7 separate regions of the Homo sapiens genome follow, and regions 1, 2, 3, 4, 6 and 7 are each reported to be linked to region 5. Evidence: microRNA targets listed by miRTarBase, many of them from high-throughput screens and not tested one by one. Region 5 holds a microRNA gene; each other region holds the end of a gene's coding sequence.
Evidence for each region. The annotated mature microRNA hsa-miR-185-5p reads UGGAGAGAAAGGCAGUUCCUGA and lies in region 5 at 2,545-2,566, opposite strand. An mRNA with a match to its seed (bases 2 to 7 or 8) in the 3' UTR can be bound and repressed. Matches are read on the target gene's strand: a 7mer-m8 pairs with bases 2 to 8, a 7mer-A1 pairs with bases 2 to 7 and ends in A, and an 8mer does both.

Region 1: miRTarBase lists USF3 as a target of hsa-miR-185-5p. Seed matches in the 3' UTR shown: 7mer-m8 at 3,455-3,461 and 8mer at 3,566-3,573.
Region 2: miRTarBase lists MRAS as a target of hsa-miR-185-5p. Seed matches in the 3' UTR shown: 7mer-A1 at 675-681.
Region 3: the mRNA of RALBP1 is a reported target of hsa-miR-185-5p. Seed matches in the 3' UTR shown: 7mer-m8 at 936-942.
Region 4: the mRNA of FAM53C is a reported target of hsa-miR-185-5p. Seed matches in the 3' UTR shown: 7mer-m8 at 2,705-2,711.
Region 6: the mRNA of COPB1 is a reported target of hsa-miR-185-5p. The part of its 3' UTR that is shown has no 7-base or 8-base seed match.
Region 7: the mRNA of PTK7 is a reported target of hsa-miR-185-5p. Seed matches in the 3' UTR shown: 7mer-m8 at 1,206-1,212.

What each region holds. Positions count from the first base shown.
Region 1 is chr3:113,651,591-113,655,655 of GRCh38, reverse strand. USF3 (upstream transcription factor family member 3) reads left to right here. Exons shown (of 7, transcript NM_001009899.4): 7 at 1-4,065. The coding sequence ends at 712. Among named protein-coding and RNA genes, the nearest start is that of USF3, 43 kb to the left of the region's middle.
Region 2 is chr3:138,401,672-138,405,736 of GRCh38, reverse strand. MRAS (muscle RAS oncogene homolog) reads right to left here. Exons shown (of 6, transcript NM_001085049.3): 6 at 204-3,567. The coding sequence ends at 3,468. Among named protein-coding and RNA genes, the nearest start is that of ESYT3, 31 kb to the left of the region's middle.
Region 3 is chr18:9,535,561-9,539,625 of GRCh38, forward strand. It overlaps RALBP1 (ralA binding protein 1), which reads left to right. Exons shown (of 10, transcript NM_006788.4): 10 at 111-2,554. The coding sequence ends at 377. Among named protein-coding and RNA genes, the nearest start is that of RALBP1, 62 kb to the left of the region's middle.
Region 4 is chr5:138,346,513-138,350,572 of GRCh38, reverse strand. FAM53C (family with sequence similarity 53 member C) reads right to left here. Exons shown (of 5, transcript NM_016605.3): 5 at 844-3,871. The coding sequence ends at 3,614. Among named protein-coding and RNA genes, the nearest start is that of KDM3B, 4.1 kb to the left of the region's middle.
Region 5 is chr22:20,031,654-20,035,718 of GRCh38, reverse strand. MIR185 (microRNA 185) reads right to left here and starts at 2,580; the gene lies at 2,499-2,580. The region is part of intron 1 of TANGO2 (transport and golgi organization 2 homolog); the gene reads right to left. RefSeq lists enhancers at 1,463-1,532, 3,216-3,435, 3,870-4,065.
Region 6 is chr11:14,454,064-14,458,128 of GRCh38, forward strand. It overlaps COPB1 (coat protein complex I subunit beta 1), which reads right to left. Exons shown (of 22, transcript NM_001144061.2): 22 at 3,449-3,820. The coding sequence ends at 3,761. Among named protein-coding and RNA genes, the nearest start is that of COPB1, 44 kb to the right of the region's middle.
Region 7 is chr6:43,160,230-43,164,294 of GRCh38, forward strand. PTK7 (protein tyrosine kinase 7 (inactive)) reads left to right here. Exons shown (of 20, transcript NM_002821.5): 20 at 492-1,486. The coding sequence ends at 652. Among named protein-coding and RNA genes, the nearest start is that of SRF, 9.0 kb to the right of the region's middle.

The sequences.
Region 1 (4,065 bases), not on the chromosome of region 5:
AAGTCTTCCCCATCTTCCTCTCTCTACTGGTGGCAGTATGATTCTTGGACGTCAACAACCTGCCACAGAGAAGAGAGGAAGTATTGTTCGTTTCATGCCTGATAGCCCACAAGTACCTAATGATAATTCAGGTCCTGACCAGCATACACTATCACAAAATTTTGGTTTTTCTTTTATTCCTGAGGGTGGCATGAATCCACCAATAAATGCTAATGCTTCTTTCATTCCACAGGTTACTCAGCCTAGTGCCACTCGAACTCCAGCCCTCATCCCGGTAGATCCGCAAAATACTCTGCCCTCCTTCTATCCTCCATACTCTCCTGCTCATCCTACACTGTCCAATGATATTTCAATCCCCTATTTTCCTAATCAGATGTTCTCAAATCCTAGCACAGAGAAGGTAAACAGTGGAAGTTTAAATAACCGATTTGGATCAATTTTATCTCCTCCCAGACCTGTTGGGTTTGCTCAACCAAGTTTTCCTCTTCTCCCAGATATGCCACCAATGCACATGACCAACTCTCACTTATCCAATTTTAATATGACATCTTTGTTTCCAGAAATAGCCACAGCGCTTCCTGATGGCTCAGCAATGTCACCTTTGCTTACAATAGCAAATTCCTCTGCCTCTGACTCTTCCAAGCAGTCCTCAAACAGACCTGCCCATAACATAAGCCATATTCTAGGTCATGATTGCAGTTCAGCTGTTTAAATACTGATAAACAAAATGTAAAGGTAATGAGTGAGATTACAAATGTATTTGTGCGTGCATGTGCACAGACATGTACATGAAGAGAAGGATTGTGTGTGTGTGTCTGTATAATCAGTTTTCAGTTATCTTCTGAATGTAGGGAAGCCATGTCAGATGCAGATACTGGGTTGTCAGAAAACAAGTTATCTTTCGTTTTCAACTGCATGGTGTACTTTTTTATTTTCCAAGTAGATTTACATTTCCAAGTTGATATTTCCTAAATACTAATTAGCTGGAAATTGGGGGAGATCATCTTGTCATGTACTGGGTAGTAGGAGGGAGCCTAGACTTTAAACTTGATTGTTGATAACTTATGGAATATGTAGGTAAGTTGCTACTGAAAAATATAGGCAGCTTGATAAAACACAGTGGCTCATAATCAAGTGCTGGCTAATGTCAGCATCTAGAACAGCTTCTTACCTATGACAGATGTTGAACTGATGTTGAGTTTAATGTCCGTAGTTAAAGTCAAGCAGTTAGCAAATAAATAAAAGCAATCAGCCTTTATTCTCAAAGTTTGGTTTAGATACAGGCTTCTTTCTAAATTATAACAATGCATAAATTATCTGAATTTTATGTCTTGTTCTTCAAATTAGGGAGCTGTGTTACCCTTTAATGTGCCAAGATTATTTAAAGCAAAGGTCTTCCTTAGACAATTATTTAGCCGTAAATATAGAAAGCTAAAAAGTTAAGTACATACATATTCTCCGTTTTGTGCTTGCATTTTGCATCGGGTCATAAGGGTAAAAGCAGTTAGTTGTATTGTGGAGTTTTGCATGGGTGCAGTTAACAATGGATGTTTCATCAGCTGAGTTTAATTTAGTATTCTCTCTTCATTCTATTTATTTGGTCTTGAAATAAATTCTTTTGCATTCATTTAAATATTAGGATTGATCAGGAAATAGTGTTTGTAATCTACACGTTTATTTGAGCCTTACTTTAAAAATATTTCTGAACAGAGATTTAAGCTCTGTCAGTATTTTCATTTACTGATAGCATTTATATTTTAAATATGGCATTGTATATTTCATTATTATCCTTCATAACAGAATTATAATGAGAATATGAATTTGTTATTTTTCTTGTTGGTAGATGTGAAATGGTGCTTCAAAAAATATATAGTCTTTCTGTATGTCTCTGTGTGTGTAAGTATGTGTGTGTGTGTGTACACATATTTTAAAGTATGAATTGGTCCTTTAAAAACAGGCCTGCCATCTGAAAATGGGAAATTGAGACCTGAGACCTGCTAAAGCATAGAAGAACTTGATATAGGTAGGGTTTTTTTTTTTTTTTTTTTTTTAATAGATGGAGTCTGGCTCTGTTGCCCAGGCTGGAGTGCAGTGGCGTGATCTCAGCTCACTGCAAGCTCCACCTCCCGGGTTCAAGTGATTCTCCTGCCTCAGCCTCCTGTGTAGCTGGGACTACAGGCACGTGCCACCACACCTGGCTAATTTTTGGTACTTTTAGTAGAGACGGGGTTTCACCGTGTTAGCCAGGATGGTCTTGATCTCCTGACCTCGTGATCCACCTGCCTCGGCCTCCCAAAGTGCCAGGATTACAGGCATGAGCCACCGTGCTTGGCCTAGGTACAGGTTTTTAAAAGCCCCACAGAAGTTTATAATACGTTTAAAAACCCATATTAAAATTTGAAAACTTAAAAAAAAAACTAAGAAAACAATGGCATATATTCCTTTTCTTAAACCTGTGAAGTCCATTACTTTTTGTTCTTGTTATATTCTGCCAAAAATGGGATGGGGTGGGAGAGATGCATAGAAATTGTTTTATCTGCCTTGTTAACAAAGTGAACTCAAGGACCAGCTTTTCTTTTCTTTCTTCTTTTCTTTTTTTTTTGAGACTCTGTCACCCAGGCTGGAGTGTCGTTAGGTGCAACTAACACCAGGAACAGCACCTTGAATATTCCTTTTTCAAGTTCCTCTTCCTCAGGAGATATTCAAGGTCACTTTGTCACCCAGGCTGGAGTCTACAATGGCAGGATCTTGGCTCACTGCAGCCTCTGCCTCCTGGGTTCAAGCAAATTCTTGAGCCTCAGCCTCCCGAGTAGCTGAGATTACAGGTCTGTGCCACTACACCTGGCTAATTTTTATATTTTTAGTAGAGACGGGGTTTCACCATCTTGGCCAGGCTGGTCTTGAACTCCTGATGTCAGGTGATCCACCCACCTCGGCCTCCCAAAGTACTGGAATTACAGGCATGAGTCACCCCTCCCAGGCCCCCCCCTTTTTTTTTAATCCTAAAAAGCTTCCTAAGGGTTGGTCAGAGCAGTTAACTCCAGTGAATACCTCTTCTAAAGACTCAGCAAAAGGGTCATTTGTGCCTCTTTAACTGTTCTTACCAAACTGTCCTGTCTCTTTTCTGCTGCCAACTAAGCAGCTTCCTAGGGACAAAAAAATATACAATATTTTTTTTTTTCTTGCTTACAAAGCAAGAACAACCTGTATTTTCTTTCTTCAAAATGGTCTTGGGGAAGAATAGGAGAGCTTCATGAATAAGTTACTCAAGACAACAGATAAACACAGTAGTCAAAACTTTTTATTGAGGAAAAATGTGGCATTTATGACTTGCTTTTTAATTCTCTTAACTGAATTTTAAGCTGCAACGTTCAAATTTTTCTTTGTACTTGAAAGGTCCAGTGTGCCAATTTCAAGAAGGACAGTTTTCCATGTGTTTGGCTATTCATTTCCCTCTCTCCCTCTCTCATCTGTCTGTCTCTCACTGCCTCTGTCTCTGTCTCTCATACACATATACACACACACACACACACACACACACACACACTCTCTCTCTCTCTCTCTCTCTCTCCAGTGGCTGTTAAGTTCTGAAGGACTGGGGACTGCTAGACATAATTGAAAGTAAGGTAACAGGCTAAGGAGAAGCTCAGTTTGAACATTGCAATGTAAAGTCCTCAAAGCCTGTGACTTTCAAGTATTTCTGTTGCATTAATTGTATTTTCCTGCTTAGCTGTGTTCAGACATAGTATTTGCATTTCTTGGAGCTTTCATTCCAACAGTCTAACATTTTGATCTTGAAAGAGTCTCAATAAGCCTTATTTGACCATCTGAGGAAAAATGTGACCATCTGTGAATAATTGGCTCCTGCTTACGTGTAGCTCTCATTACTTTACAGATGTATGCATGTGTATGTAAGACTTCAGTTCATACATGGCTTAATTCTGAAAGTGTTCAGACCATAGTACCCTTATTTGATTTAAAAGCATGAATATATGAGATTTACTAGCAGTATTAAGTATTTGATAGAGCTACGTGATTTTTGGGAAGAAATTTGTTATATGGTAT
Region 2 (4,065 bases), not on the chromosome of region 5:
CTGTGCTAGCCTGCCTTCATCCTCCAGCTCCATGCAGGAAGGAGACACCCCACGGCCACCAGTGGGCTCCTCCTTACTTCAGATCTGGTTAGCACCAAGGTCATGCTCTGTAAGACGTGGATGTTCTGGGCAAAACACCAACAACTCACAATGTTCTCAGCAAAACTTCAGGAATACTGGAGTAAAAGGAACTAAGACAGATACGTGTTTCTCTTCTTTATTAATCAGTCGAGAGATACAAAGACTTAATAAAAAGTTACACAGAAGGTTCAAACATCACTGAGATCTTCAGGCATCACTCGTTTCACGACAATGGCCACCTGTTAAGACTATGAAACAGAAGCTGGGCGCTCACAGGCGCACAATAATTCAAGTATCTTTCATTCCAAGTAAACCCGACATGGAATTTCAAACACAATGGGCTGCCAATGGAGGGAACCTGTCTGTGGCTCCAGATTTGCTGTAACATGTCTGAGGGGCCTTTGGGTTAAAGTTGCCACGTTAGTGGGTCATGTCTCCTGGAAAAGTGAGACAGGCCCCACGAGGCCAGCCAGGCATTTTCCACAGCAAGTGCCATGAGAAGGAGGTGGGCAAAGTCCTAAGAGAAACCATCCAGGTGTCCCGAGTGGCAAAGTGCACAGGTAGTAAGTGGCCATTGTCCCCAGCCGTGGGAGTGGAGAGGATGGCTAGGATTATCTCTGGAAAAAAAAGAGCAGCCCTCTAAGGAGGGTGTCAAACAGTGGAAGAAATCTGAGAGCACACAATGGCAAAGGCATGGGGTGAGGGCATTTCAGGAAGGCTGTGCTCCAGGGGATGTGAGGGTAGCACTATTCTCCGGAAGACCAACGGGAACATGAGGATGTCAAACAGCCAGAAGTCCCAGTTGGCTCCTCGGTCATGGTGTGGCGTGGCCAACCAGGTTTCCCAGTCTGACCCTGCTAGATGATAATGGAGGAGAAGATGGAGGGATGTCACGGGGCACACTCTACACTCTACTCTGGCCTATCTGGAAGCTACCTCAGTCATGAGGGCCCACTTCTACAAATGGGGCATTATTTACCCATTTCATTTATGGGGAAATGAGTTCATGGGAGATGAAAGCTTACCAGAGGCTCAACAGCAGAGGATACAGAAGACCAACCCTTAACTAGTCTCTCTCAGGCACCATGGAGTTCAACGTGGGCCAAGTGCAGGATGGATGAACAGATGCACTGTCCCTTCTGTCCCAACTGTGTGGTTGAAATCCCTATGTCTTCTCACCTTTATGGCCGAGGTCTCTGTTCTACATCAGCTGATCTGCTTCCAGTGAGACTATCAAACTCAGTGCTGTCGAGGAGTTGCAGCTCCACGGTGGGCATGGGGTATGCTCGTAGTGGTTGGTGCCCAGCAGGAGTTTTCTGGCTGTGGACACTGCCCTGTGTGCAGGGCTTCTTCTCCTACTCCGCCATGCTCTTGATTCTGAGCATCTCCATCCTTACTCCTTCCTACCTGCCTTTCCTCCGCCTCACCTCCAGTTTGCAGCTGCCATCAAACTGCACACAACAAACTGCTGCAGATACCACTTAGGGAAGCATAAGGATTGGGAAGAGCTTTGTCCTTTTAGTGTTTAAAATACCTCTTAACACTATAGGGTCTAAGGAAACTTTGAAGTGCCTCACCTGGAATGTTCTCTCTTATCCTTCCTTTTAGGAACAGAAAAAGGGGCAATTTAGACAAATAAGAAGTTTGATTTCCAACAAGCAAAAGTCTCAACTGTCTCCTTTTGTAGCAGAATCATTCTCCAGCTGGGCCCCTCAGTGCTGGTGATCTTGCCGAGGTAGGAACACAGCACATTTTCAGAACCCGGGTGTCTTGGCATCCAGTTGGGTGCTCACTTTCCTTGGGTTTCTTTCTCCAGAGTGGCCAGGCCACCTGCTGAGGATATTCTAGTTTGCATAGTGACCTGATTTGTAACATCTAGAAAATAAGGTCACCAGCTGTGCTGCCTTTTATTCTGACCTTTTCTTTGGTGCAGCGTTGTTCCTGTTGTCTCTCCACTCCCACCCCAGCTGGAAAAACTCCAGTCTTTGGCTCACACCAGCAGCACCTGAGGTGGGGGGGCGGGGGTGAGCATCATCAGGGAGCTGGGGAGACTGCCCCCTTGCAGAAGGTATATGAGAGCCACACATCAGCCCAGCCTTCCTTACTTCTCAGATCATTTTATAGTCAAGATTCAACAGGTCAATAAAAATTGCCAAAAAGGCAACCTAGTACTACTTTTACAAATACTGGAAGGGGTCTGCTCATTGACTAGGCTTATAGAGGTGGTAGTCAGTTGACTCCAAGGGAAGATGGCTTCAGGTCTTGGTGCTGTTTTAGTGATAACAGTATTGAATCATTTTTGGTTAAGATCCAGCATGAACTGGAGTTTTCTGGATGGTGTCCACATTAGGTTACTTTGACGTGTCAGTGTATTCGTATCAGAGAGGCACCAAGCAGCACAGCTGATGTGAAAACGCAGCAAGAGACAGATCTGAGAAACCCAGAGCCTCCTCAGACCCCTGGGGAGGGCAGAGAACTTAACCCATACTGTCTGAAAAACAAATGAACATGTTTGCAAAGCCAATCAGCTTACTTTAGTTTATACATTTCCAGGATAATGAAAACCCCTTTTAGAACTGACATGCTCATGACAGCCACTCCCCTCAGCAAAATACAATCTGTTTTCTAATATTTGCATCCCCAACCATAGGAAAATCCTCTGGGTAAATACCTCTCTCTTCTCTCATTTCTAGGCCATGTGTAGGGTCTCTTTCCCTCCCAGGTTTGACCCATGGCCTGAGGCCTCCAGCTACAGTTCCCATTACCTTCTGTCCTCTCAGACACTCTACTTTCAGATTGAGTTGAGTTTTGGCACTGATGGGAAAACTCGGTTAAAAAACAACAACAATATTCCAGATATGTTACCAGAGAGGTCTGCTGAACACTTGAAACTTCACCAGGCAGTGAGCCCAGACCCCTTTAATAAAATAATAATCACTAAAATAATTTAAAAATCTATAAAAGACATCCAAGCTCAGACATTGTGGATGGGGGGTAAGGGAAAGAAGCTTGTTCATGGCTTGTTTTGTACTTTGTATGTGGATAAACACTTCCACATCAAACCAACACTATGTAGTTACAATAAACAACACACCCACCGAGAGAGGGGGAGGAACCGGGTTGAATCAACACATGGGGGGGCCAGGGGCACTTGGATGCTGCTTCTGCTTACAGGTGGCTTCCTTGTCTCTTTGAGAGGTGGGAAAGCCCGTGCCCTCTGGGCAAAGCCAGACCCTGTCTGCTCCCTGCCCACCTGCCCTTCTCCCTTCCTGTACCAAGTCCTTGGGCCAAGGGTTGTGGTTAGAAATGGTTTCAGTGCAGTTAGGTGGGGAGGGGTCCCGAGGGCTGGCCAGGCCACCGTCACTGTGCCCAGGGCCTCAGGCCTGTCACAAGATCACACATTGCAGTTTGTGGGTGCCTGTGGCCCGGTCTCCCCGCCATTTGGTTTTCTTCTTCTTCTTCTGGCTTTTTTCCGGAATCTGTTGCCTTTTGAAACAATGAAGGACAGAAAGACAAAGTCAGAATGGGCTTTGCTTCTCCTCTGCCCCTCTCCTCCCTAGCCCCAGATCTGAGTCAGAGGAGGCCTGTTCTGGCGGGGTTAGTGGGTGAGGGGGATGGGGATGCCATCCCTCTCCCAGTGGCTGTCCTGGCCGCTGGAGGAGGGCCTGGCAGGATAGCTTCTCTTGAGGCAATGCAATGGGGGAGATGGGGGAGGGGATAACCTAAATCGCCCTACTGATGGGAATGACTGACATTATGTTGTAGCTACATTTACATAAATCATAAGCTACATCACGTTTTGTCTTATAGAGTGCTGGCCTCTATTCCTGTGTTTCATAGTTTAAATAAAATGATGGGTCAACTGAGCGTAAAAGCCATTTCATGTTTTCTGTTAACTTTTCCTATGTCTAAAACCTGACCTTGGCACTATAGGTTCACAACCAAGGCATCACCATAGGCTACCTGATGGCAGCACATCCTAAT
Region 3 (4,065 bases), not on the chromosome of region 5:
AAACAAAACCAGATTCCTCTGTAGGATGCCCTTGCTAACCGCGCTCTGCTCCTGAGAAATCGTCCTCTGACTTCCTTAAGTGATAACTGCCCTTTCTGTCATTCCCCAAGATAAAGAACAATCATTTGAATCAAGCAATTCATGAGGAGCGCGAGGCCATCATCGAGCTGCGCGTGCAGCTGCGGCTGCTCCAGATGCAGCGAGCCAAGGCCGAGCAGCAGGCGCAGGAGGACGAGGAGCCTGAGTGGCGCGGGGGTGCCGTCCAGCCGCCCAGAGACGGCGTCCTTGAGCCAAAAGCAGCTAAAGAGCAGCCAAAGGCAGGCAAGGAGCCGGCAAAGCCATCGCCCAGCAGGGATAGGAAGGAGACGTCCATCTGAGCAGCCTGCGTGGCCGTCTGGAGTCCGTGAGACTGAAAGGACCCGTGCATCTTACTGTAACCCGGGGGCCAGGCCGGCTCTCTCGCTGTACATTCTGTAAAGGTGTCTTCTCTTCTCAGACTCTTCCTCTGTCACACGTCTGACTCCTTCACGTCAGGCTCAGGTTCCATGGGAGGACGAAGCAGTGGACGCATTGTGGGCTTTAGGGACAGATGAGTTTTCCAGATAGTGTCAGCTTATTTGAAGATTAATTTTCTTTGTTAACTTAAAATAACTATTTTAACCCTTGAGTGGCTTCTTTTTAAACCAAAAACCGTCTTTCTTTGCTTTTTTATCACAGCAGAATCAGGATCTCTTTCTCATTCAAGGGGGGAACCACCCCAGGTCAGCGCTGCGCCTGCTGTGGCCGCCGCGAGCCACGCCCTCTGGGATCTCTGGTACCGTCACTCTTGCTTGTGCCTTCCACACCTTCTCGGTGCAGATCCCTATGGGGGAGCTGCCTCACGTTCTCTGACTGGTCAGAGCAGCGCCTGGTGGGTGTTCCCTGGCCCACTCTCCTCTCTCCTTCTGCAGTTCTAAACCACAGTCTATAAGCCCGAGTCACCAGGACGGCCTGTCTGGCCACAGACAGGGGCTGCCTGTGGAGCCTGCCCACCGGCCCCCGGCAGTGCAGTCCAGCGGGGAGGAGGCTGCCCGTTCCTGCCAGTTCCTCACTGCGGGGACCAGCAAAGGCCTTCTCACTGGGTTGGTCAAAGGTAGTCACCTTGGCCTGGTGCATCCACAGAGGATGTTGTTCAAACCAGAAATCTTTTAAACGACTGACCTTCCTTAAAAACAGAATGACTCCGATTGCTTGCTTGGGCTAGAATGTACACGTCTCCTTGCCTGAATAAGCCATATATATGCTCTTAAACAAAAGTTTGAAATTATCCATATCATCTCAGTGAACCTACTGGTGGACTCCCAATTGACAAGATTGAGCAATAGAAAAAAATTCCTTTCCTTTGAATGATAGCTGTGATTCACCCCACCCCATTTTCTTGTTTCTGGTCCATCCGATGAGACGGATGCTCTGATGCTCTGAGGCTTCTGGGAGGCTGGGCCCTGGAGGCAACGTGCTGCAGGCGCACTCTGTCAGAGTGAACAGCACCGCGAGACAGGCCAGGCTCGTGGCTCGGAAGACAAACCCCACACACACTCAAGGGGTCGAAAACAAACCCCACACGAGGGCTCTCACCTCCTTCTCCTAGGTAGTATTTATTTTCAGCACCTGTTTGATGCAGTTTTTAATCCTCTACCTATTGCACTGTTGTGACTCGTTGGCCATTATTTGATTTTTGTACGAAAAAAAGCTTTGTTATAGAAATCAGCATACTATTTTTTTAAATCTGGAGAGAAGATATTCTGGTGACTGAAAGTATGGTCGGGTGTCAGATATAAATGTGCAAATGCCTTCTTGCTGTCCTGTCGGTCTCAGTACGTTCACTTTATAGCTGCTGGCAATATCGAAGGTTCCTTTTTTGTTTGTGTAAACTCTAATTTCTATCAAGGTGTCATGGATTTTTAAAATTAGTATTTCATTACAAATGTCTCAGCATTGGTTAACTAATTTTTGCCAGGACCATTATTGATCAAGCAAATAAATTCAACAGCCATTTGGGAAAAAGAAAAGCTTCTAGTTTTTTTGTACACATTCTTTCTGTGAGGAGATTGAGTACTCTGCAGCTGGCGAGGAGTTGGTTGAGGCACTTCTTCAAGGCCAAGGGGGAACACAGTGTTTTGTTTCCAGCTCACTTTGTACCCCTCACCTCTGCAGACACGGGGAGAACCCCGGACCCCTGGCATGCATGCTGGCGGCGGCATGCCTCCCTTCCACAAGCCCATGCTGCTGCAGAGGGAGCCTGTGTTTGCAAAACCCAGTGGACTGGGCTGGGTCTGCTGTCTGAGCAGCTCCTGGCTCCGGTGGGAACTGCACACAAGTCCACTGGCCTGGCTTGGCCCCAGGCATTGCAATTGACAGACATTTGCATTTCATACGGTAAATGAGGACTCAGCACAGCCAACCATAATCAGCATGTCTGGGATAGACTGGTCTAGAATAAAAATGAAGTTTCCATTGCTTTGTTTGCTTTAAAAATTCCACAATTAAAATATCTGTCATTGAAAGCTTAGACAAACAGCTGACTTCTCTGTTTTGTGTAGTTAAATCTATAATGTTAAATTTATATAGCTAAATTCTCCTTGATGGAAAGTCTCAAACGCCCTGATGGGGTACATTTAGCATTGGGGATCTGGAGATACTGAGGTGTGAGACCTGAGGTCACCTCCCAAGATGGGCTCTAGTGCTGTGTGATCTTTTTTTTTTTTCACTGCAGCTGTTTCTGTGAAGAGCACATTGCTTGTTATGTATTAGGATATCTTAAGAACAAACACACCTTCTGCGTCCAGCCAGGCTGAGCAAGATGCAGCCTGGGCTTTCTGGAGCTCTCGATGGGGACCCGTGCCCAATTCCATGTGTTCAGCCTCAGCCCTGGCCCATGGTTCTCATGAGGGATAGAAGGAAAAGCCGGAGTCAATTAGCAGGCAGAGGCTTCAGCATAAGATCCCACAGCTTTTAGGGAAGGTGGGCAGTGCCCCCTGGAATGTTCTAGACTAGATCCCAGGAGACCCAGGAGACGTGATAGCAAGCCTGGGCAGAGGAGGGGGCAGAAAGCCCTTAAATGCCACATGTAGGGGCTCTTTTGCAGAGCAGGAAGAGTACTGCTGCCCGTCACATGCCGGGTCCTCCGAACCTGCAAAGTGATGGATGCTCATTCTCTGCATTCTGGTGACTTTGCTGTTACTAGACAAGCATGATTCAACAGGTGTTCAGTTCAGCCCCAGCAGATCTCGGACATCCGACCTCTGCTCCCACCGCCTAGCTCAAGTGTCAAGTGCTGTGACCGGACATCGTGCTGAGCTGTTCCCGGGTCTCGTGCTAGAAACTGGCTTCTAGACAAACAGTGCGGGTACTGGAAGGAACGTGGACTTTAGGCAGGAAAGGCTTTTTTTATTTGTTTGTTTTTGGAGACAGAGTCTCACTCTGTTGCCCAGGTTGGAGTGCAGTGGTGTGATCTCAGCTCACTGCAACCTCTGCCTCCCAGTTCAAGCAATTCTCCTGCCTCAGCCTCCCAAGTAGCTGGGACTACAGGTGCACACCACTACCATGCCTGGCTAATTTTTTGTATTTTAGTAGAGACGGGGTTTTACCGTATTGCTCAGGCTGGTCTTGAACTCCTGAGCTCAGGCAATCCACCCACCTCGGCCTCCCAAAGTGCTGGGATTATAGGCTTGAGCCACCGCACCCAGTGTAGGCAGGAAAGTCTGGGTTTTCTTCATAACCTTCAAAAGCAGTCTTGTTGAACTTCAGTTTTTTCATTGGCAAAATGGTGGAGATAATCTTGATTTCCAAAGGCTGCTTAGATAAATAATGGCTAGTAAGTACCTGGCATAGGGCTTTTGGCGTCATACTCCAATTCATTTTCCCTACAGGACATGATCCGTGACTTAGTCATCATGTTATTAACATTAAACTTTATAGTGCAGAGATGAGTCGGGGAAGAAAGAACGTAGCATTCTTTAAGATGCAGGTTTCATTTCTCAGCCTCAAGGCTCAGCTACAGAATAAGCTGTGGCCCGACTGCCTGCC
Region 4 (4,060 bases), not on the chromosome of region 5:
GATGAGTGCCACCAATTTGAAGCAGGAAACCAGGACATAAGCTAAGCAACTTGACTCTTCTTGCTGCCTGGCAAATTAGCACCACAACTGGTAAAGAAAGGCTAAGCCTTAGAGACAGAGGCTCCTGCCTGGATCTCTAAGCAACTACACTTCACCCACACACATTGGAAGAATGTCAACATAGAGAGAAGAAAGGGTGGAACAGAAAGGTCTAAAGAGTGAGCCACATAGCTTCTTTTGGCAAACCAACACTCCCAAAGGAAACATTAGGGAAAATACTGTCTTCTACAACAAAAGAGAAGCTTTGCAGCTAGGATTATTTTCCAAAAGCAGTATTTTTAGGATGGAAAAATTGCCTAGGTCTATGGAATCTGAATTCTGATGACTAAACCTCTATCTCTCCAGGATGTAACATGTGAAAACTTAAGAAAGATCCCTGGCTGTCTCCCACCCTGCCTTCTCCCTACTTCCCAAAGCCTACAAACCAATCTAGACAAGTTCCTGACTGTACCATAAACCATTTCTCAGGGAGCTGGAATGCATTCATACTTGACTTCAACTTGCTGGAAGTGAGAGTGACAGCAGGCAGGAGGAGACAAGTATAACTGCCAGGGAAAGAGAGACCAAACCAGACTGCCAAAAATAACCAAGGCCTTAGCAGAAGCCTGGGCCACAGTATAACATCCTGCCATGGCCGGCAAAGGGCCTAGGGTCCAAATACTGCCCCTTTTTGAAAGGTTGACCCACATCTTAGATGAAGGGGCTGGAACAGTTAGGTGGCCTTCTACCCTGCTTCTTCCTTGTCTTTGTGGGGAAGGGAAGAAGACACTGTAGTACACAAGGTTGCTTGGGAAAATGGATTATTCTAATAAAACTTTATTTTTTCAAACACAGCCACAGAGGCAGAACCTCATGTTTAACACACACAGACTTATGGATTTTTCTTTTAATATAAAACAAAGTTTACGAAAATTTTTTTCCACTTTTTGTATTTGTAATCCCATTAGCACAGGGACTTTGGCAGCAGGTGGGAGTGAAGGGCAGCTGAGCTGCCACTGGGCAGTCACTGGGCACAGGAGGAGAGCACCAGCCTGGGGAGTGGCTTCACTCACACACACAGGGATACTCACCTACTGGCCAACCACACTACACACACAGCACAGATGCAGACATTGACCCAGTGTCAGCCACATGCCCTGGAGGTGTGCTCCACTCTGGGTAAGCCCAATATGTGAAAATTCAAATAGTCAAAACAGCTAAAGTGGAGGGAGGTTGCTTGCTTTACAAAAAGAAGCAATCATAGGCTGCTTTTAAATGGTCAGCAGTCCAAATGCATTGAAAAATAGCATTTGGTTTACACAGAACTGTTGGAACAGATCTACTGTGTAAAGCAAAATGAACCAATTCTTGAAAAGTGTTCCAGGGCCACAGGTTCTTAGATTGGGAAGCAAGATGACAGTTCTGACTAGCTTAGTTTTCCAGACTGAAAGTAATGGAATTAAAATAATGATAACTGTAGACCTTCTCCCCTAAGGATGGTGCCCTGGGGCTTTGGGGAAACCAGGATGGAGGCAGAATCACTGCCTCACTTCTTCAGCTTAGGGCCTACAGAAACTCACTGGCATTGCCAGTAACCTGTTGGAAGCTGGCACAGCCAATCTACAGCAGAGAGCCCTGGGATGAGGATGCCCCAGGAGGAAAAGAAATTGGCACCAGGGAAATTATGGCCTGAAGAGGGAGAAGAGCCAGGGGAGGAATGAAACCATAGATGGGCAACTCCTGGGCTCACAGTTTCCCTGGATTCTCTAGAGGGCCTCTCTCAGGCCCCTAGAGACCTGGTAGCCTAGTGGTAACTAGCCAGGAGATAGGGAGGAGCCTCTGAGGGCCAGAGGCTTAAGAAGACATAGCCACCTCCTCTCTGGAGTGGAGACGAGGAGGCTGAAGCCTCACTGATGCTCCTGACATGCAGGAGATCCAGAAAATGTCAGGTTCAATTCCATGAGGAAGAAAACACAAAGACCTTGGTCTTCCTCCCTTACATGAGGAACTGGGTCCTAGGAAACCCTGGAAATTGAAGAGAAAAATGCCCTTCTTGCCATAAACAAGGGCAGGTCAAATTTGGTCATGCAGGGTCTAACCACAGCTGGATAAAACCTCACAAGCTATTGTGGTGGCAGCTTCAGTATGTGTTTCCACTGGTGCCAGCCCTACCAAGGTACTTAAACCCATCACTGTGGCCACTTGGACCAGCTGTCCTGGCTCAAGTTGCGGGTGAGAAACAAAAAAGTAAATTCAATCCAATGACAACCAAACTCCCAACTGCTTCTCACAGCCTTTGCTTTATACATCCTCAGCCAATCCCTCAGTGAGCCCCAACCTCCCTATGGTCTCTCAGGCCCAATTAGAGGCAAATAAACACTTCCTGGCAGGAGTGGAAGACAAGCAAACTATTAAATGCTAAACACCCCTTCTTCCCTCTCAAGCAGGTCAAAAAGGCTGGGCCTGGATCTTGTAAGAATTGGTTTCCTGCAGTCACCTTCCCAACAGCAGTGCTGGGGTGAGCTCACCCATGTCTGCTGGGGACTGAATGCCACTTCTGTTGCAGGTCTGCCTCAGTAGATGCTGGGGACCAATATAGGGCCTTCCTACCTAGTCTATGACTTAGAAGGGCAGAGGGTGAGGGGAAAAGGGTCCCATCAGCAGAGGAGAGAGAGAGAGAGCCCCTCAACCCTGCTTCAGTTGCCCATGTGCTGTGTGCAACTCTACTCAAGAGGGCAAAAGAGGCAGGTGGAATATAGCCTGGACAATCTGATGAGAAAAAAAGGCCAGCTCAGAAAAAATATGGTGACACCCCCCACCTGCATTCCCCAATATACTAGATCGAGCTAGTGGGGAGGGGGTGGGGCTGAAGAAAAGATCATTAGCTGAAGTCACAGCACTTAAAACACCCTGCTGTACCCCAAAATGAAATCCTTTGCAGAGTCGGTGATGCTATGGATTACAAGCCTGGTTCCAGAGCTATTTAGAAAAAAGGAAAACTTGGTGCCCTCCTCTTGACTCCTTGAGCAAACCCAACATCCTGTAAAAAACTCAAGATCCTGGGGGTATCATGATACTCTGCTGTTAAGGAGCAATTGCCTTCCTTCCCTAAGGCTACGCAAACACACCTTTCCACAAGTACACTCCCATGCACGCACACACTCTCACGCAGTTTCTCTGAGGAGGCTGACTCAACCCCCCACCCTGGCCAAATTCTAAGACACAAGTGCCCTTTGAAGCAAAGGGGCTAGTGAAATTCCCCGAGCTGGGGTCGGCAGACCCCTTCCTTCCCTGCCCATTGCTCTCTTGGTGGCAGGGATACTCACACTCAGGGCCGCCATAGGAAGGGTCTGCTCTGGGGCTGTCCCTCCCGCCACCAGCTCCGTTTATCTTGTCCCGGCCAGTCTCTTGGCATGGTCGAGCTTGCTGGAGCGAGAAGATTTCCAGCTGCCCTGAGTCGGAGCCCTCCACTCACCCCCATTCCCAGGCTCGGCCCCCAGCCTTGGGGACTCGACACTTGTTAGTAGCCATGAGAGAGTCAGTCTGTGTGGCCCCAGGAAGTAGCCTCTCAGTTTTAGTTTTCCTCAATCAAATTCAAGTCCAGGTCCCCAAAGTCCCGCTGGCACAGTGTCCGCTTGCTCAGCGCCTGCCGACCCCACCGCACAGCCCCCTCCTCCTCCTCTTCGCTTTCACTCAGCACCTGGGAGGAACCCCCAGTGGGGCTGCAGGAAGCAGAGAGGGGTGGGGGGCTACAGGCCATGAACCATGGTGGAGAGATGCTGCTGCCTTCCCGGGCTGTTTCTTGGAGACAAAGACCTCCTGAGTATGGTTTCTGTCAAACAAACAAAGAAGACAGTTACACCTGAAGGCAAGAATTCTTTAGGGTGAGGTTTGTAAACTTTTTTTTTTTGAGACGGAGTCTCACTCTGTCACCCTGGCTGGAGTGCAGTGGCGTGATCTTGGCTCACTGCAAGCTCTGCCTCCCGGGTTCACGCCATTCTCCTGCCTCAGCCTCCCCAGT
Region 5 (4,065 bases):
CACCTGGGATGCAGGCCCTACAGGTCCTGCTCAGCACACACACTCGCCATCCCACAGGACCCGAAGGCCCCACACACCCACAGCAGCTGGCATGGACACGTGCCGGGGACACGCTGGGTGACTGCACACTTAGCATACACCTCGTCCCCACCCAGGGACCTCTGGGGCCCAGAGCAGGCAGTTTTCCACAATGCAAACGAGTGCAGAACGGAGATTAGATTCCGAGGCCACCCAAGGGTGACACCCAAGTTCCCTGAAATGTGCACATGTGCAATGATTTAGTGACACGGCTCCAGGGCAGAGCCAGTGCTCACAGCTGGGACATGGGACAGCCAAGAAGCTGTTCAAATACTGAAGAGACCCAAAAAGATTCCTCTGAGAAAAGTCTAATGAGTGGGGACGGAGGTGAAGAGGGCTCAGTGTATGTGCCTCCATAGGCACGGGCATTAGGGATGGCCATTGGGGACCATCTGCTCCAGTGAGGAGCTGGTGGCTGTGCAGTTGAAGTATTGGGATAGCAATAAGCGCCACGTGCAGACGCACTGGGTCAGGGGGATGGGCAGCCATTTGAGATGGTCTGCTGGCCACCACTCTGCATAGGATGGGAAGCTAAAGGGTGTGTTGTTGCAAGGGGGCCCTGTGGGAAGCAGACTGTGGGGCTGGAAGTGGGTTGGGTCCCCTTGCCGGGTGCCCTGGAAGCGCCCACAGGGGGCCATCATCCGAGGGTGGGCAGGCTACTAGGGGCAATCCTTTTGGTAAAAACAACTCAAGATGCTGGATGAAATATGAAAACATCTTAAAAATTGCCAGGAGCTGATGAGCTCATGCAGCATTTGGCCAACAGTTCGGAGAGCGTGGCCCACAGAGGACAGCAGAACACAGTGGCCAATCCTGCCTGAGAGCGTTTGCCCACTGAACACACTGGGGCTCATACTCTGGTGGCCTCGGGGGCGAAGGAGACAGAAGACAAGGTCCAGTCACCCCCACAGGATGAAGAACCTAACAGAAGACTCTCCTCTAAGTTAGGCTGGGACTCCAAAGAGCGATGCTTAGGGAGAGATGAACTACAGCCGCAGCCACCCCCAGGGGTTATGGGGACATTGCACATAAGTGAAGGGAAGTTTCTGAGAAGCTGTGGCACAGCCAGCCGTCCAGGTCCACACTGGGGGTACAAGGACCCACAAGCCAAGCACAGTTTTAAGGGGTTCCAGCACTCGTAGTGCCCCTGTGCCTGAAGTTCTCTCTGGAGAAAGATACCTTCATCCTATACTTCAAAGAAGTCTCAAAATCATTTTTCAAAGACCAGAAGCAGTACATAGTCAGAAAGAACCACATAATGAAAGAAGCACCATGAGCAAGAACCAGCAGAAAGATAACCGTACATGCATCATCAACCAACCATGCTCTGATGGCAGAAAGAAAACAGACAGCTCAGAAACATCTGCAGGGCAAAGGAAGTGATGAAGAGCAAACTGGGTTTACAAAGCAGCAAAAGGAACTCGGTTTTTTTTTGTTGTTGTTGTTTTGTTTTTGCTCCTGTTGCCCAGGCTGGCTGGCATAATCTCGGCTCACCGCAACCTCCGCCCCCCGAGTTCAAGCAATTCTCCTGCCTCAGCCTCCCGAGTAGCTGGGATTACAGGCATGCGCCACCACGCCCAGCTAATTTTGTATTTTTAGTGGAGACGGGGTTTCTCCATGTTGGTCAGGCTGGTCTCCAACTCCTGACCTCAGGTGATCCACCCACCTCGGCCTCCCAAAGTGTTAGGATTACAGGCATGAGCCACCATGCCTGGCCAAAAGAACTCTTAGGAAGCTATTTTAGAAATGAAAGCTTCAGTGACTGCACATTAAAGCTCAGCTGTGGGTTTAAGAGCAATCAGGTGCAGCTGATGATGCAGAACCATCCCGAATGCAGTGCAGGAAGATGGGGAACACGCTGGGCTTTGGGAGTGCACCCAAGGTGCCACTGATGGGGTGGGCCCAGCACTCACCATGTGGCCAGAAGACACAAGTCCCTTTACTCTGGAGGAGCTGGTCTTTCCTGCACATGAGAACCCCTGGCTGCAGTCACTGGAGAAGCCCTGCCAGCTGGTCTCTACTGGAATCCCACTGGCCTGGAGCCCAGGGCTGCCCAAGGCCTGCTCACCAGGGACATGCTCCTCTGGGGTGTTAGAGAAGGCCGTTGGTCTCAATCAACTTCAGCCGACCTCAGCCCTCCCTGGGCTGCACGCCCAGCTGCTGGCAAGGCCATGGATGAGGGCAGTTCTGGCCACTGATACACGTAGGACAGACAGGCAGAAAGGCACCCCCAGTTCAGCTGCAGGACCCCACCATCCTAGCTGGCCAGGGTGCAGGGGCAGCAGACCAGCCCTCCAGGCACCAGTGGCAGGGAGGGCTCCATGGTCCAAGGGAAGGCCATAAACAGATCTCCGGACAGCCTGGCACTGGAGGTGTGGGCGCAGAGCCAAGGGCTGTGGCCTCGACGAAGACGCGGTCATTGGGAGGGAAGGACCAGAGGAAAGCCAGCCCCTGGGGAGGGGACCATCAGGAACTGCCTTTCTCTCCAATCCCTCGCCCCCTGCTCGAGCCAGGCCCACTGCCCACCGGCCCCCAACCCAGCTCTAGCCAGCAGGTCTCCCCCTCCCCCTGCCAGCTTCACCTCCCCCGACCTGTGACCTTGCCTTTGCCTGGGCCCCTGTGTGCTCCCTAAGCCAAGCCCTGCAGGTTCCCTAGGTCCTACAAGGTCCCCACACAGGCCCACCACAGCATTCCAACACCCTCTCATGCCTGCTGACTTGCCAGGCTCTGGGAGGGAGCCATGGATATAGTCCTTGTCCTTTTGGTCACCATATCTTGATCTGGGCGCAGGGCATGTGGGCACACGGGTGGCCAGGACCACTTCCCACAACTTCCACAGGTCCCATCACACCAGGTGAGGCTGGGCTCCTCAGGGCATCTCTTGTGCCACACAGAGCTCGCCCTCAAGGTTGCCCGAATTGGCCAACTCTACAGGAGGGTTGGTGTCCCAGGGAGAATCGTGCCTGGCTTTCCAGGTGAGGCTCCGCCCTGCCTGTCCCCACCCCTGCCCTGGGCTCAGCACTTGGGCCAAGCCCAACCAACTCTCAGCATGTCCTTGGCAGTCCAAGAAGGCCAGAGTGGTCAAAGCCATGCAGGGTTGGCCCTGAGGCCCAGGCGGCCAGAACCAGACCACAAAGAGCAGCTGGAGGAAGAGGCAGGCAGGAGGGTCTGGGGTCCAGTCAGCAGCCTTGCCCTGGGTCTCAGAGGCCACAGCCCAGAAGCATCTGAACATCTGCAGGAAGCCACGCCCAGTCTCTGCATCCTGCACAGGACCCCGCCTGCCCCAAGGGGCTAAGACCACCAGGGCAGCCTGCACACAACCACCAGGCTTGCAGAAGCAGTCAGATGGCCACACGCCCATCCTCTCCAGGCGGAAAATGCTTACCCCTCTCCATTCTGTCAACTGGCCTCACGGCCACCGGGATAGCAGTTGGGCAAGTAGGTTACAGGGCGGGTGGGGCAGGTGACGCAAAACCTGGCTGCCAGGGCGGGTCCAACCCCAACCGGAAGGAGGCTGGGCCAGGGCACCACAGGTGGGAAGATGCTGATGAGCTCCTCCCTGTGCTGTGTGCTCTGCAGCTGTGATCTCATCTCAAGAGTCCCAGGTCACATGGCAGGGATGGGCAAGGTGAGCCTGGAGGGGCTCATGGTGGGGCACCTGCTGGTTGGGCTAGAGGTGAAGAAGCAGTGAGCTGGCCACCCCGAGCAGGCACACGTGGGATGCTGGGATCAAGTGGGCCTGCTGGACCCTGCACCCACGGCCTGGCAGCCCCTGAGAGAGTCAGGATGGCCTCGGCACTGGATCTGTTCATTTGTAGCTCTGCTCTGCCCAGCCACGCTGTGGACACTCCTGGAAGTCAGCATGCTGCCTTCTGCTCTCTCATAGCAGGATCTGCTGATCCCCGCCAGGGTGCAAGAGGTCCCTGGGCAAGCTGGTGATGGGCAGCCAGCTTCCTCCTGGCCATGGTGGTCACTGTGTTCACATGT
Region 6 (4,065 bases), not on the chromosome of region 5:
TGTTCTCATTTACGAATTACCTTGCTAATAGAAAAATAGCCAGGTGCAGTGGCTCACGCCTGTAATCCCAAAACTTTGAGAGGCCAATGTGGATGGATTGCTTGAGCTCAGGAGTTTGAGACCAGCCTGGGCAACATGGCAAAACTGTCTCTACAAAAAATACAAAAATTAAATTAGCTGGGCATGGTGGCATGTGCCTGTGGTCCCAGCTACTCGGGTGATGAGGTGAGAGAGGTGGAGGTTGCAGTGAGCCAAGATCGCACCACTGCCAGACCCCGTCCCAAAAAAAAAAAAAAAGGCCGGGCACCGTGGCTCACGCCTGTAATCCCAGCACTTTGGGAGGCTGAGGTAGGCAGATCACGAGGTTGAGATTGAGACCATCCTGGCCAATATGGTGAAAACCCATCTCTACTAAAAATAGATAAAAATTAGCTGGGCATGGTGGCCCACGCCTGTAGTCCCAGCTACTCAGGAGGCTGAGGCAGGAGAATTGCTTGAACCAGGGAGGTGGAGGTTGCAGTGAGCCAATTGTGCCACTGCACTCCAGCCTGGTGACAGAGCCAGAGTCCGTCTCAAAAAAAAAAAAAAAAGTTTTTTAAAAAAGGAAAAATAATCTTGCTTTTTCTTAAATTTTTTTTTTTTTGATGGGGGATCTCTTTGTTGCTCAGGCTGGTCTTGAACTTCTGGGCTCAAGTGATACTCCCACCTTGGCCTCCGAAAGTGTTGGGATTACAGGCATAAACCACCATGCCCAGGCTCCTTTAAAAAAAAATTTTTTTTTAAAAGAGAGGGAGTCTCACCCTGTCACCCAGGATGGACTGCAGCGGCACAATCATAGCTCGCTGCAGCCTTGAACTCCTGGTCCCGAGAATTTCTCCCGATTCAGCTTCCCGGGCACATGCCACCATACCAGGCTAATTTGTAAAATTTTTTTGTAGAGACAGGGTCTATGTTGCCCAGGTTGGTTTTGAATTCCTGGCCTCAATCCACCCTCCAGCCTTGGCCTCCCAAAGTGTTGGGATTATAGGTGCGAGCCACCACACTTGACCCTTTTTCTTCTTATAAAACAACTGAGTGCCAATCTCTTCTAATTGCAAAATGAAAAAAAAAAAAAAAAAAAAAAAAAATCACTGCACAGAGCTCCCTCTAGTGTTGTGACATTACTGCAATGTAAGCCATTTAATGCTCCTGTAAGCTTTACAGGTTTATCCACATTCAATACATTAATATATTAAGCTTTCATTTGGTATTTAATGTTTATTCTCTACCGGACATCATGGTCCTAATTATATGGTATCTTATAATGTGAACAGCTACTATCTTTGAATGTATATTATATCCCAAATAACAGGGCATAGTGTAAACAGCTTCTTTCAACAATGTGCTGCTATCCAATTCAGTTCACATTTATTACATGCACAAAGCTAATGAAATGCTAATGAAGTAAACAGTTTAATGTATCTGACAATTGTGTTAACTTCTTTGTTCTCCTTATTTATGAATTTAAGAAAATGGCAATGTGAGGCAATCTGATTCCAACAAAAATGGCCTGAATATGTCAGGCAGGCAACTTTCTAAGAGTATCAACCGAGATATATTCTAGGATGTACACAGGCATAATTCCTTCAGATATGAAATGTGATACTGGTTAACTGTGATTACAACACTAATATCATTAACAGGCTAAGTCACTTTTCCTGTCCCATATATTGTCAATAGGTCATGGAAAAAGGATTCCCTGGTAAAGTAAGGTTAGGATATACTGGGTTAAACCAAACTAATCTGCTTTCCTCTCAGAATCTCTGGTATGCTAATGTACATTGTGAATCTCCAGTGCAGGACAGTTTGAAGCTTTTCCCCAACTTACTTGACTATGGAATTACTTTTTCACTCAGAATATCTAATGACATCTAAGGAAGCTAATGTTCAGTAGAACAGAGTTTGGGAAATGATGATCTAATCCAAAGTTGCACCAGCTCCTTCGCTCTCATTGCAAATCTCTACCCTTGAATCGACATCCCTTCTCTGCACTTCCAGTATATCTTTCCCATTTGATAAGCCCTGGCTTTGTTCTAAGATCTCAGTGTTCTGGAATCTCAAATGCCCTGTAATCTAGGCTTTTTTTTTCTTTTTTTTTTTTTAAAAGCAAGTGGCTTCACAGTTTATGACATCATACAAGGTATCAATCTCCTTATACTCCAAACAAATCATTTCATTCTTAATGAAATAGGAGATGCTTTCAGTCTTTCACAGACCTTATCTAAGGACTCACAGGGAATGCAGCCTGAACCCTAGCTGGTAGACAAATAATAGCCTTAAGTTTAGACTTAGCTAAAAAATCAGACTACCTCAATCACCCCCAATGAAAGTAAAGGCCAAAAGGAAAGCACAATCAGACGCTGGGAAACTTAGCTTGGAAATGCATTTGGAATTATACTGCAGTGTGATGGTACCCAGTCCTAGTGTGAAGTGAGGAAAAGGAGACGAGTGAGTAAGGCACAGAGGCAACAGAGAAAAAGGCAGCTTTTTGAATCCTCTCTAGTTGAATCCTCCCAGTACCAGCTTCAGTAATTGGTTAGAACCAGTTTTATTCCTAACAAACATAGAACACCCTAAACTAAATGTGAGTAAGGCACGGAGGCAACAGAGAAAAAGGCAGCTTTTTGAATCCTCTCTAGTTGAATCCTCCCAGTACCAGCTTCAGTAATTGGTTAGAACCAGTTTTATTCCTAACAAACATAGAACACCCCAAACTAAATGTGAATGATTAAAAAATCTATTTTGGATTATCTACTCTTCATTATGATTCAGGATAATTAAGAACAGTATATCTATTTCAGTTCGGGTACATAATACTTCTTTAAACTGCAGAGCGATCTGTTTTCTCAAGTTATTTTGGGCCGGGTGCGGTGGCTCACGCCTGTAATCCCAACACTCCGGGAGGCTGAGGCGGGCGGATCACGAGGTCAGGAGATCGAGACCATCCTGGCCAACATGGTGAAAGCCCGTCTCTACTAAAAATACAAAAAATTAGCCAGGCGTGGTGGCGGGCACCTGTAGTCCCAGCTACTTGGGAGGCTGAGGCAGGAGAATGGTGTAAACCCGGGAGGTGGAGCTTGCAGTGAGCCAAGATCACGCCACTGCACTCCAGCCTGGGTGACAGAGCCAGACTCCATCTCAAAAAAAAAAAAAAAAGTTATTTTGATACTTTCTCCCTGGAGCTAAATTCAAGAGCAAATCCCTTCAAAACATGATAATGCATTTTTAGAGATAGCAATGTTGGAATATTAAATAAGTAAAAAACAACCAAGTGAATCAAGGCCTACCTTATTTTATATCATTGAATTTGTAAATTCTCTTAATAAAGCTGCATATATTCACAACTCAGTAATTTAAATTTATAATAGAAATTTATAACCCAACTAAAAGAAATCCATTGCCATATAACTAAAATTATGTAATCATTTATTTATAAAATAACAAAAATTTATGAATAGATCTGTTTATTGTACTGTGAAAAGGGTCTTGGTACATGAAACATTATATACTTTGAGGACAGCATTCAGAACTGTTAAGACAAAAGACAAACTATAATTTTAAACTCAATCTTGATTTAAGGGAAAGGCTATAAATTATTGGCTGAAAAGTATTCAGCATGAACTCAGATTCTATATAAGCATGAAAGAGTACAAAAGATGTTGGAGTCCAGTAAGCCCATACCTAAATTAACTGTAAAGCTTCAAGGACTTTTTGTTTATTTTTATATACTAGTTTTCTTCTGTGACAAGTTGATTTTATCTCCAAGACTTAAGGCCATTCCCTGTAAAGAAAAATTAAGATATTTATAATTATTTAAACTATGTACAATCAGTAGGTTATTCCATATTATTAAGCCCCAATTCAATTCAATGACACCATTATCAACAATAAAATCAAGGACATACCAAACAGACTTACCAAACTTTACTGGTAATTACCTTTCAGTGCTAGATTTTTCAAGCCGTCACCAGATTTTTTTTTTTTTTTTTTTTTTTGAGACGAAGTCTCATTCTGTCACCCAGGTTG
Region 7 (4,065 bases), not on the chromosome of region 5:
CTTAGACTCCCTAGTAGCTGGGATTACAGGCACGCACCTCCACTCCCTGGCTAATTTTTGTATTTTTAGTAGAGATGGGGGGGCTTCACCATGTTGGTCAGGCTGGTCTCAAACTCCTGACCTTGTGATCCACCCGCCTCGGCCTCCCAAAGTGCTGGGATTGCAGGCGTGAGCCACCACACCTGGCCGAAAATACTGCAATACTTCTATATTGGTTGGTAAATAGCCTTTGCCCCCAGTGCCCACTCCAGCCACTCTGACGCCTGTCCGCCAGCCCACTTCAGCTCCTATGCATGGACCCCGTCCTACCAGCCAGAGTGAGTGGGGCCAGGGGAGTCATCTTTTTCCGTTGCGGGTACCCACCTGCCGCTGGCCAGCATTGCCCCAGAGGCATCCTTGGGTGGCTGCTTGTATAAACTGCAAGGTCCACAAAGTGTTGAACAAGTTGTTGAATGTTTTGGCCAACACTGCACCTGCTGTCTTCCCTACAGATTTGCAGGCTGGGAAGGCTAGACTTCCTCAGCCCGAGGGCTGCCCTTCCAAACTCTATCGGCTGATGCAGCGCTGCTGGGCCCTCAGCCCCAAGGACCGGCCCTCCTTCAGTGAGATTGCCAGCGCCCTGGGAGACAGCACCGTGGACAGCAAGCCGTGAGGAGGGAGCCCGCTCAGGATGGCCTGGGCAGGGGAGGACATCTCTAGAGGGAAGCTCACAGCATGATGGGCAAGATCCCTGTCCTCCTGGGCCCTGAGGCCCCTGCCCTAGTGCAACAGGCATTGCTGAGGTCTGAGCAGGGCCTGGCCTTTCCTCCTCTTCCTCACCCTCATCCTTTGGGAGGCTGACTTGGACCCAAACTGGGCGACTAGGGCTTTGAGCTGGGCAGTTTTCCCTGCCACCTCTTCCTCTATCAGGGACAGTGTGGGTGCCACAGGTAACCCCAATTTCTGGCCTTCAACTTCTCCCCTTGACCGGGTCCAACTCTGCCACTCATCTGCCAACTTTGCCTGGGGAGGGCTAGGCTTGGGATGAGCTGGGTTTGTGGGGAGTTCCTTAATATTCTCAAGTTCTGGGCACACAGGGTTAATGAGTCTCTTGGCCCACTGGTCCCACTTGGGGGTCTAGACCAGGATTATAGAGGACACAGCAAGTGAGTCCTCCCCACTCTGGGCTTGTGCACACTGACCCAGACCCACGTCTTCCCCACCCTTCTCTCCTTTCCTCATCCTAAGTGCCTGGCAGATGAAGGAGTTTTCAGGAGCTTTTGACACTATATAAACCGCCCTTTTTGTATGCACCACGGGCGGCTTTTATATGTAATTGCAGCGTGGGGTGGGTGGGCATGGGAGGTAGGGGTGGGCCCTGGAGATGAGGAGGGTGGGCCATCCTTACCCCACACTTTTATTGTTGTCGTTTTTTGTTTGTTTTGTTTTTTTGTTTTTGTTTTTGTTTTTACACTCGCTGCTCTCAATAAATAAGCCTTTTTTACAACCTGTTTCTGAGATTCATTCCCTGCTCTTGCTCGTGGAAGATGTTCCTTTTTCCCCCGCTGATGAGAAGGGGCCGTGTGCAGGCCGGGTGCAGTGGCTCATGCCTGTAATCCCAGCACTTTGGGAGGCTGAGGCCAGTGGATCACCTGAGGTCAGGAGTTCGAGACCAGCCTGGCCAAAAAGGTGAAACCCCTGTCTCTACTGAAAATATAAAAATTAGCTGGACATGGTGGCAGGCGCCTGTAATCCCAGCTACTTGGGAGGCTGAGGCAGGAGAATCGCTTGAACCCAGGAGATGTAGGTTGCAGTGAACCGAGATCACACCACTGCACTCCAGCCTGGGTGACAGCGAGACTCTGTCTAAAAAAAAACAAAAAAAAAAAGAGAAAAATGAAAGGGCCATGTGCCTTCATGGAGTCTGGTGGGGCTTGGACAGGATGAACCGGTGGATATTGGTTCTTCTCTCCAGTTTGCAGGGCAGGTGAGCATGCAGGCATGAAGAAGGCAAGATCACCTGTTGTCTGTGCAACCCTGTGCTGTCCTCTGACTGTCACCTAGACGGGCCTAATCCTTGTGCTCAGATGGGGAGGGTAGAAGCGTGAAGGGGAGCAAGTTAGAGTAGGATTGGAGAAGGAGTTAGTGACAGACTCAGGTCTCTGAGTCCTTTCAAGACCCTAGGAGGGAAGTGAAGTAGGTAGAACCAAGCAGAGAGACGGTGCTTAATGCCTGGATCTTGTGTCCTCACCTATCCTCTGCCTCATTCCAGTAACTTCAGCCTGGTTCACCATCCAAAAGAAACGAGTCCTGAACTCCAAAACTGCTCTAGTTCCTTTACTCCTCACCAAACTTCTGAATAATAAAAATAACAGCAGGCTGGACATGGTGGTTCACACCTGTAATCCTAATACTTTGGGAGACTGAGGCAGGAAGATCACTTGGGACCAGGAGTTTGAGACCAGCCTGGCCAACATAGTGAGACCCTGTCTCTACAAAAAATTTAAAAATTAGCCAGGTGTGGCGACATGCACTTGTAGTCCTAACTACTGAGGAGGCTGAGGCAGGAGGATCATGTGAGCCCAGAAGTTTGAGGTGGCAGTGAGCTATGATCACAACACTGCACTCCAGCCTGGGTGATCAAGTGAGACCCTGTCTCAAAAAAATAAAAAAAACAGGCCGGCTGGGCACGGTGGTTCACGCCTGTAATCCCAGTACTTTGGGACCTGAGGTGGGTGGATCCACGAGGTCAGGAGTTTGAGACCAGCCTGGCCAATATGGTGAAACCCTGTCTCTATTAAAAATACAAAAGTTAGCTGGGCGTGGTGGTGCACACCTGTAGTCCCAGCTGCTTGGGAGACTGAGGCGGCAGAATCGGTTGAACCTGGGAGGCAGAGGTTGCAGTGAGCCAAGATTGCACCACTGCACTCTAGCCTGGGCAACAGAGCAAGACTCTGTCTCAAAAAATAATAATAATAAAAGGCCACAGGAACAGTGGCTCATGCCTATAATCTCAGCACTTTAAAAGGCTGAGGTGACAGAAATGCCTGGGCAACATGGCTAGACTACACCTCTACAAAAAATTTAAAACTTAGCTGGGTGTAGGGCCGGGCACCATGGCTCACACCTGTAATCCCAGCACTTTGGGAGGCCAAGGCGGGTGGATCACAAGGTCAAAAGATAAAGACCGTCCTGGCTAACACGGTGAAACCCTGTCTCTACTAAAACAAAAAATTAGCCGGGAGTGGTGGTGGGTGCCTGTAGTGCCAGCTACTCGGGAGGCTGAGGCAGGAGAATGGCGTGAACCTGGGAGGCAGAGCTTGCAGTGAGCCGAGATCGCACCACTGCACTCCAGCCTGGGCGACAGAGTGAGACTCTGTCTCAAAAAAAAAAAAAAAAAAAAAAAGAGAGACCATCCTGGTCAACATGGTCTCTACTAAAAAAAATACAAAATTTAGCTGGGCATGGAGGCACGTGCCTGTAGTCCCAGCTACTCAGGAGGCTGAGGCAGGAGAATCGCTTGAACCTGGGAGGCAGAAGTTAAAATGAGCCGAGATCATGCCACGGTACTCCAGCCTGGAGACAGAGCGAGACTCTGTCTCAAAAAAAAAAAAAAAAATTAGCTGGGGGTAGTGGGGGTGTGCCCATGGTCTCAGCTATTCTGGAGGCTGAGGAGGGAGGATCTCTTGAACCCAGGAGGTTCTCACCACTGCACTCCAGGCTGGGTGACAGAGCAAGACCCTGTCTCAAAAAAAAAAAAAAAAAAAAAAAGAAAAGCTAATGTTTTTTGAAGACTTTATCTGCACTAGTCACTTAATGTGCATTATCTCATTTAATCTCTGCAACTACTCTGTTAGCCAGATGAGATTATTTCCATTTCACAGATTAGGAAACTGAGTCTCAAGGGAAGTCAGGTAGTTTGCCCATGGTTACACAGCTAGTAAGTGAGCCATAGTCACTGGTATACACCATGCATTACATCCTTCAGATGTGTTGAAGGGAAAATTTTTCTAGAGCAGTGTTTTTCAAACTCTGGTTTGCAACCAGCATTAAAAAAGAAAAAAAGGGAAAAAAAGAAACATAATA